Linked DNA regions of Homo sapiens: region 2 is linked to region 1. Evidence: fine-mapped QTL for protein levels in blood plasma. Region 1 holds a variant in brackets. A gene starts in the other region. All regions are shown on their forward strands.

Region 1 (4,395 bases):
GACAGATTAGTTACACACGCATATTGTAGGCCATGGTGCAAAGCAGGCTCACCATGCAAAAGTGACCAAAACGAGGCCACGTGGGTTGTACACCTCAGCAGCTGTGTTACCCACTGGGACAAAGCTCTGAAGGACATCCTGCCTCCAGGGGAGAGAAGAACAAAGCCCAGGGTGTCCCTGGCTGTTTTTCCCTAACTCAAGATTTTATATCCTCTAGGAGAAACAGGAACAAACCTGAGCTGTTCCAGACAGACAGGATGTCCTTGGCTCTGTGCACGTTCAGGAACAAGATCAACTCGTTCTGAGTCTCTATTCAGTGATTTAGGTTCGGGGAAATAAGAATGCAGATCTGAAATTATGGAGCTTTCAGAAGGTTTTCATGTGTCTCAGTGCAATTTCTTCATGTGTTATTTTGGCTTATGGTATTGATAGGCCCACAAAAACTAGATTTAATTCAATAATTCAAGTGATAGAGCAAAACTGAAAGAGCTGAGGGGTTTTCTAGCAGGATTTAGAAAGTTTAAAATACTTCATCTTAGAAAATGTATTTGCTGGACATTGATGGGACTGGAGTAGAGATGGATGTGGGGGAGCCCAAGGATTGTGTTTTCACACACACCACAATGACTTCTGCTGTCCCTTCCTTCCCTCTCTCCCTCTCTCTCTTTCTTTCTTTCTTTTCTTTCCTTCCTTCTTCCTTCTTCTTTCTTTCTCTTTCTTTCTTTCTTTCTTTCTTTCTTTCTTTCTTTCTTTCTTTCTTTCTTTCTGTTTCTTTCTTTCTCTCTTTCTTTCTTTTCTTCTTTTCTTTCTGCTGAGTGAGCCCAGAAGTACACACAGGTATAAAACTCACTGAATCACCATTAGCTGTTCTTCCTTTTGCCTCCCACCCAGGTCAGGAGGAATTACAAGTCCTACGGAATTCTAGTTCTAAGAGAGTGAGAATCTTTATATGGCTGATTATTCCAGAATTTTCTATAATGATGCAGCTGTTGTTTCTTTTAGCCAGTTTTTATTGAATTCTGTTCTTTTCCATTGAGTCGTAAAACTTATTTCTATATTCTGTTGCAAGTTTGTTTTAAGATATATATATATATATATAAAATATTCTTGAAATCTGAAAGTTTCTGTTCATTTTCTTAATGTAATTATTTAAATATGAAACTTATTTTATTATAAATTACAAATAATTTTTGCATATATTTATGACATATGTTGTTTAGTTATGATACATGTATACATTATGAACTGGGTAACTCAAGCCGCTTATATTCATCACCTCACAAATTTATCATTTCTTAGTGGGGAAATTCTAATGTTTATTTTTTTAGTAATTTTGAAATATATACTACCTTATCAGCTATAGTTGACATGCTGTGCATTAGAAAGGCATAACTTATACCTCCTGTCTAACTGGAACGTTGTGCACTTTAACCCACATCTCCCTTTCCCAGTCCACCCCTCTAGGCCCTGGTAACCAACATTCTACTCTACCTCTGCAAGTCTACTGCTTTAATATATACAGTGAAATCATGAATGACTCTTCCTCTGTTCCTGGCTTGTTTCACTTGGCATAAGGTCCTCTAGATTCATGCATGCTGTCACAGAGGCAGGGTTTCCTTCTTATTTAAGGATGAACATTACTCTGTTGTGTCTGTATGCATTTTCTTTATTCATTCATCCATTCATGGGAATTTAGGATGTTTCCATATCTTTACTATTTTAAATAATGCTGCAATGAACGTGAACATGGAGTGCAGATATCTCTTTGACATGTTGATTTCATTTCCTTTGGATACATAGCCAGCAGTGAGACTGCTGGATTCTACAGTAGATTTTGTTTCTTTATTTTTTGAGGAACATTTATAGTATTCTCCATAAATAGCTGTATTCATCTACATTTTCACTCTCCATATTCTGAGTTCTGTTTCTGTCATTTCAGCCATCTCAGCCCCATTCAGAACTGCTGTTGAAGAGGTGCTGTGGTTGTTTGGAGGAAAGAGGGCGCCCTTTTTGTTTTCAGGACTTTTGCACTGGTTCTTTCTCATCTTTGTGGGCTTATCCACCTT[C/T]AATCTTTGAAGTTGCTGACCTTTGGATACATTTTTATTTTCTTTTACCCTATTGGATGACCTTGAGGGTTTGATTGTGGTATAAGGTGGATTCAGCCAACTGGCTTCATTTCTGGAAAAATTTAGGTGGCCAGTGCTCAGCTCCCAACACCTAGACTGTGTGCTCTGACTCTGGGGGAAGTTATACTAGTCCCTGACTTGGTTCTCCGGCTCCTTAAGGTTAGGAATCCACTGTCCTGGGCTGTTGGAGGTGTGGCAGCTGTGGCAGAGTGCTAGTGGGTGTCTGGGTGCCTGCCTCCCTGCAGGTGTTCGCCACAGTGGCAGAGGCATTGCGTCTGTGGGTGTGTGGGGCCCTGTTGGTGACTGTGTTCAAGGTCACACTGGAGGAGGTGTTGGCTCAGGGATGGGACACTTGTGGGCACAGGCCCGGGTGCCGTATTCATGCCCCACAAGCAGGAGTGATTTCTGAATGTGTGAGATGATCTGCTATTCTCTGTGCAGAATTAGCGCAAGTGCGGGACGCTGACAGGAGCGGCCCTGGCTTTTTCCCCACCAAAGCTTCCTCTGCCATGGTGGTTGGGGTGGGGGGAGGGGACTGCACTCCACGCAATGGTGGGACAAGAAAAGCAAAACCCACCTATACAGACATGTGACTGCAAAGTGATGTGGGAAGTTACGTGGGCCTGGGTGAACCTACAGTATTCGGAGGAAGTGTGTAAGCTGGTGTGTGCACATGAGGGCTGCCCGATTGGAGCTCTCCACCAGTCAGGCATGTTCTGCCAGGGCAGAAATTTTGGTGCGGGATCCCAGGGCGTCCAAGACTGCCCTGCAAGAAGGTGTGGCCAGGCTAGGGCCCCAGGAGAGGCCAGTAGATGGAGGGGCACTCAGGTCCCTACATTATTTGAGAATGTGGCCATGTTTTATGTGAATGAGTGATGACTTGATTGTAATGCAGCATTTTATTCCAGTACACAAACATATCTCAAATTGTTTAACATTCACCTGTAATGGATATTCAATGTGTTCTCTCAGTTTCTGGCTTTTATACGGAAAGCAGCTATTCAGTGTGGGAATGTGAAAAAAATGAGAAAACTGTGATTTTATTCTGACCTCATTAACAACGAAGCTGAACAGCTACAAATAAAAGAGAGAAAAAACATTCAACATATCTGAGTTGATTTCACCAAGCAAACAAGAAAACTGAAATCTGAGAAGATAGGAGCCTGCAGAGAGAACCAGGACCTACCTGCTAGTGTACATAGGGCAGGTGCCACTGGATGGCATTTGAGATAGAAACAGACTAACCTAGAAATACTTAATGACTTTTTTTTTTTTAGTATGCATGTACTAATGGTGTTAGATTGGCCTAGTGCTTGCAAGCTTTTCCTAGAGAACTTGAAAAATCCACGGACAACTTCCTCATCTGGTGTCTTGTGGTGTTGACTGGGGAAAAGAACAGCAGCTCCTGTGGAATGCCTGAATGCACCTCCACTACCTCCAGGGGAAATCCACCAAAGCATGTGTCATATGAGCTGTGGTGAAGTCAACAGAAACAAAAGGAAACAGACGACACCAAGGAAACTTGATCCAGAAACACCTCCTATCTCTTTCCTCAGGAAAGAAATCCTTACTCTTTAGGGTAAGGATAGTGGGTAAAAAGCTGGGGACACTGGTGAAAAACAGTTGTGTCTGGGAAAAGACGTTCCAGCCCTGGGGAAAGAGTTAAGGACAGGACAATGTGGAAGGCCACTCCCCAGAACTATGCTTACTACTCCTGCATAAGAAGGAGACTCAGTCAGAAGGTTGGAGGAAGTCCCGCTTTGTCCAACCTCCTTCACCACACAGTCATCAATTTAAACTGTCAGTAGGGTGCACTTTCCACAGCTGAAACAGACAGCCTCCCTGGGGAAAACTAAATATAAAGACCCAGGATCAAACAGGGACACAAAAGCAAGTATCATGGGAGGAACTTGAAATCTCTGTGGACAGCAGAAGCTGACTTCAACTCTGATAATTGTGGCATCCATAAATTGCAAATATAGCCCTGAATAGATACACACAAATATCTATAATGAAGGCCCAGCAGAATGGAATGTGTTACCATCTTCAGGAAGAAAATAATGAATACATGAGTACAAGAAAATAAATTACAAATTAAAGTCAAACTGGAATTCTATATATATTAAAAATTTCATTTAAAGCGAAAGTCAAATGAATACCCTGTAAGACAAATCGATTCTGAGAAAATTTATTGCTAGTGCATTCATCCTTCAGTAGGTGCTTTGGCAAATTTTCCGCCAGGGTGAGTAGCCATATGATATACATCCGA
Region 2 (4,364 bases), not on the chromosome of region 1:
AGCGTGACTAGATCAGTGTCATAGACATTTCTAGGCTGAGGTCTGATAAGGGACCAGTGGACACCAATGAAATCACAAAGTCTAGGGATGTCACAAAGGCAGCTAGCTCCCTGACCAATAAGGGCCTGGAGCAGAGGGATACAATAGGCAGGACTAAGCACTAGTGTCCTCAGAGACCTACTTGAGCTAGAGAATCAAGCAGAGCTGATGAGAGCCAAACCCAGCAAACATCATGTCAGAGAAAAAGAACTGTAAGAACTCGTCTACAAATAACAACCAGACTCAAGACCCTTCTAGAAATGAGCTACAGGTCCCTAGGAGCTTCGTGGACCGCGTTGTGCAAGATGAACGAGACGTCCAAAGCCAGAGTTCCTCCACAATAAATACCCTCCTTACCTTGCTCGATTGCCTTGCTGACTACATCATGGAGCGGGTAGGCTTGGAGGCCAGCAACAATGGCAGTATGCGCAACACTTCACAAGATAGGGAGAGAGAAGTGGACAACAACCGTGAGCCCCACAGCGCTGAGAGTGATGTGACTCGCTTTTTGTTTGATGAGATGCCCAAATCCAGGAAGAATGACTGAAGACTGGGTCCCAGAGCCTTGAAGGGAACCTCACAGGCTTAGCCAGGGCAAAAATGTGTCACAGCTGAGGAATATCTGCTGTTGTCATCAACAAGTGCTATTAAAGGATGTAAATCCATGAGTATGTTTCTGACTCCTCTCAGTTTCTGTCGCTTTGGGTTGTAGGTGTCTGTAAGACATCCAGGGGAAGCTATCCCCAGAGAGCTGAAGGCGGGGAAGGGGTGGCCAGTGTGGTGTTTGAATCAGTGATTTAGAGGGGGCAGTTTCCAATGGTGACAGTGAGGGCGCCGGCCCTGTGGGGAGGAACTGGCTGGGATAAAGACACCGAGACTTCCTCATTGTCTCTGAACAGGAAGGCCTTGTGAGGCCAGGGAGTTGGCTGGGGGCCTCTGAGGCTTGTTGAATTCCCAGCCTGATGCTGGGGCCTGAGGTGGAGCTGCAGACTCTGACTGAGGTGCAGGAGGCTTTATTCAGGATAGCAAAGGTCTGAAGTCAGAGGGCGGTGGCCACAGGGGTGGGTGGAGAGGGGCACACTGGCTGGCATGAAGTTCATGGGACAGGGGCTTTACATGGAGATTGAAGAGTGAAGGAGAAACCATCATGAAAAATGCAAAAAAGAAATGATGGCCTGCTGGATTTCATTTCTTATTTCTTTATGCCCTGCCTTATTATGAAAGCGGATTTGAGACAGGGATTATTAGCTAGTGCTGTGAATATATCTTTTTGTCCTCTCTTCAGGACACTGGTAAAATAAATCAAAAGAATATATAAAATTTATGATCTGGCCTAAGATGGGCAATTCAAGAAGTTCTTAATGGTTGTTAATTATTAATGAATCAGCTTAATTATAAATGTATTTCATTTAAAACACGATTAACAATTTCATTTTTAAATTGAATACTTATTCATTATAATTACCATATATTGCATAGAGCACCAAAGGATTATTAGTGACTCAATCCATGTTTTAAGAGGTATAGAAATAATTCTGTCCCAAGTGGCGGCCTCTAAAGCACATGCAATCCTTTTCAAAACTTCCTGCTCTGTGCTAAGTTTAAAAGAGGTGTCACATCAAGTGTTGTAGCAATCTGTCCCCTTGCCTGTGAGTGCCCACATTTTAGGTTTCCACCTCTTCCTTGGGTCCTTGGGAGCCACAGTCTGCTGCCTGCTGGCCTTTCACAGAGGGTTGGTCAGAGGCTGCACAGCCGGCTCCAACAATGGGAGCTGCGGGCCTGGGTTTCAGATCCCAGTTCACCACTTCCTGGACATGTGATATTAGACCTTCAATTACTCCCTCTGAGCAGTCCTCCTCATGTGTAAAATGGGGGTAGTAAAAGTCTCTCCATCTGTGGGTTTTCCCAAGATTGAGTCCACTTGTGCCTGTAAACTGCTGTTCCACACAGTGCATGCACAGGGTCCCCCTTAATAAACAGTTGCATCTCCTTCCTTCCCTAACAGCAGACCTGTAGGCAGGCTTCCCCAAGGTGCAGTGGTCCTGGTTCTCAGGTGACCACTGGGGACTTAGGCCACTGGCTGTGAGAACCACATCCTGCTGAGCCCTGTGGAGAGACAGGAGGAATTTGGGAATATTTAATTTATGTAAGCAAAAGAGACTTTATAATCGAACACGTCAATACCATCCAGAGGTAGGAAAACTTTACATAATCACACAATCAGAGGTGGAGCTATTTCAGAATTACAAGCACATAGACATATAGGCACAGAGAGATAGAGCTTATAGCTTCAGTTCTACAATTTCAACCGTGAGTCAAGTGTAAATAGAAACAGTAAAGTTCTCTGATCCAAATATAAAAAAAAAAACTGTTCTCCTCTAAGAGAGTATAAAATTCTTAATTGATTTGAGCTATAAATAGACAAATGGACAAAAGACTGTCAAACCAGATTTTCTGTTGTCTTTTACACAACAGAGACTGTATTTCTATGAATCATTAACTCATTTACACAGCTCTCCAGATGGTTGGATCCTAAAACTGAATTCCCAACCATTTGGTCAACAATGAAAATAACTTACCTAATGTCAATGAACAACAACAACAACAACAAAATACAGAATTAGTAGAGAAAAATATTGAAATAAAAATTAAATGTTGAAACTAAAATTAGAAAAACACAATGAACAAAGACTTATTTGGGCTTTGGAGTCACCTAGATGAGGCAAGCAAAGACATTCCTGGGTTTAACCAAGCATGAAGCACACATCTCTGTCACCAAGTTTGCCTAGCTCTGATAGATGAATCCACTGGGTATAACATTGTGACCTTTAAAAACAGGTAAAAGGTATTTTCTAACAGAGTAAAATCATAACACTCAAACACCTATGATATGGAAATGCGTTGAAACAATCGATTAACTCGTGAGGAAATTGGCGGATATTATAAGCCATTCAAAAGGGAATTCAAAGAATAAACATAGGAACATTGATCATGAATGTTTAAGTAAATGTATACATGGAGGCAAAATTGGGAGCAAGGCAGTGAACATGTCTGTAAGTGACTTACAGCTTCTAGAGGGAATGTAAATTAGCTCACAGACAATGCAAGGCTAAACTTAAAGAACCTGGAGTGGTGTCCTAAAGACAGGACAATACTTTCATTGACACAATTTTTTGCTAAAATGTTAAATAGAAAATGAGCTTTTCCTTAAAAATAAGTTCCAGCTACTAGGGCAACCAGGTTCCTCTCAAAAAGAAGTTCCAGTTACTGGGGTGACCAGGTTCCTCTCAAAAAGAAGTTCCAGTTACTAGGGCAACCAGGTTCCTCTCAAAAAGAAGTTCCAGTTGCTAGGGTGACCAGGTTCCTCTCAAAAAGAAGCTCCAGTTACTAGGGTGACCAGGTTCCTTTCAAAAAGAAGCTCCGGTTACTGGGGCAACCAGGTCCCTCTCAAAAGGAAGTTCCAGTTGCTAGGGTGATCAGGTTCCTCTCATGGGCTTTTCTAGGCTGAGGCCTGATCAGAGCCCAGTGGACACCAATGACATCAAAAAGTGGAGGTTGTCACAAAGGCAACTCCCTGACCAATGAGGGGCTGGAGCATAGGGATACAGTGGGTGGCAATAAGCACTGGTACCTTGAGAGGCTCAGGCCAGCAGGAAAATCAAGCTGTGCCAATTGGGGCAAAACCCAGCAATTCCTCATGGCTGGAAACAAAATGTTCTGTAGGCCTAGGAGACAACGCCTTTCCCATTCCAGAAGAGCAGAGCTGCAGTTTCCTGTCAGCCACTTGGAACGCTGCCTGCGAGAAAGTCAGCATGCCCGGCACCTGAGCTCAACCACACCTGTTTTCCTGGCTGGTGTTCTCGAGTATCTGACAGCCAACATCCTGGAAAAGGTGGGCAAGGAGGTCAAGAACAGCTGCAGGCTGTGCATCACCCCAGAACACGTGAAGAGGGCACTGCAAAAGGATGAGCAGCTCAGATGGATCTTGGAGTTGGAAGATGACACCCACTCTCAAGTAGAAGAAATGCCCCAATCTGAGGAGGAAGAGGAGGAGGAGGAGGAGAAGGAGGAGGAGATGGTGGTGCTGGTGGTGATGGGGGGAAGGAGGAGGAGGAGGAGAAGAAGGAGGAGGAAGGATTCCTGAGTTTCGGAGCCATGCGGGACTTCATCAGCAACCTCCTCCAGATGCCAAAATTCCCATAGATGAAAGACCCCAGGTTGCTTCCATCTGCCCAAGCTATTAAACTGTGTAAATGCATGACAGTGCTCCTGACTCGTCTCCGTTTCCGTTGCTTTGGGTTGGAGGTGTCTGTGAGACATCAAGG

Direction of the effects. Positions count from the first base shown, and alleles are read on the strand shown. Strength reflects both the effect of a copy and how common the allele is.
For the plasma level of the protein whose gene starts at base 172 in region 2, T is the high allele of the variant in region 1 and C is the other (strong association).

Evidence for each region. PIP is the posterior inclusion probability: the model's chance that the variant is causal. Protein levels are from antibody-based Olink assays in UK Biobank. Linkage for the fine-mapping came from a reference panel and not from the study's own genotypes, which makes the PIPs less certain.
Region 2: H2AP starts here. The variant in region 1 is fine-mapped to the plasma level of the H2AP protein (UK Biobank, PIP above 0.99).

What each region holds. Positions count from the first base shown.
Region 1 is chr14:105,991,623-105,996,017 of GRCh38, forward strand. It overlaps IGH. Among named protein-coding and RNA genes, the nearest start is that of FAM30A, 76 kb to the left of the region's middle. The variant C/T (reference allele first, on the strand shown) is at 2,067.
Region 2 is chrX:37,990,608-37,994,971 of GRCh38, forward strand. H2AP (H2A.P histone) reads left to right here and starts at 172. Exons shown (of 1, transcript NM_012274.2): 1 at 172-707. The coding sequence starts at 233. The coding sequence ends at 586. It overlaps H2AL3 (H2A.L variant histone 3), which reads left to right and starts at 3,665. Exons shown (of 1, transcript NM_001395555.1): 1 at 3,665-4,297. The coding sequence starts at 3,737. The coding sequence ends at 4,183. It also overlaps a transcript of SYTL5 not described here.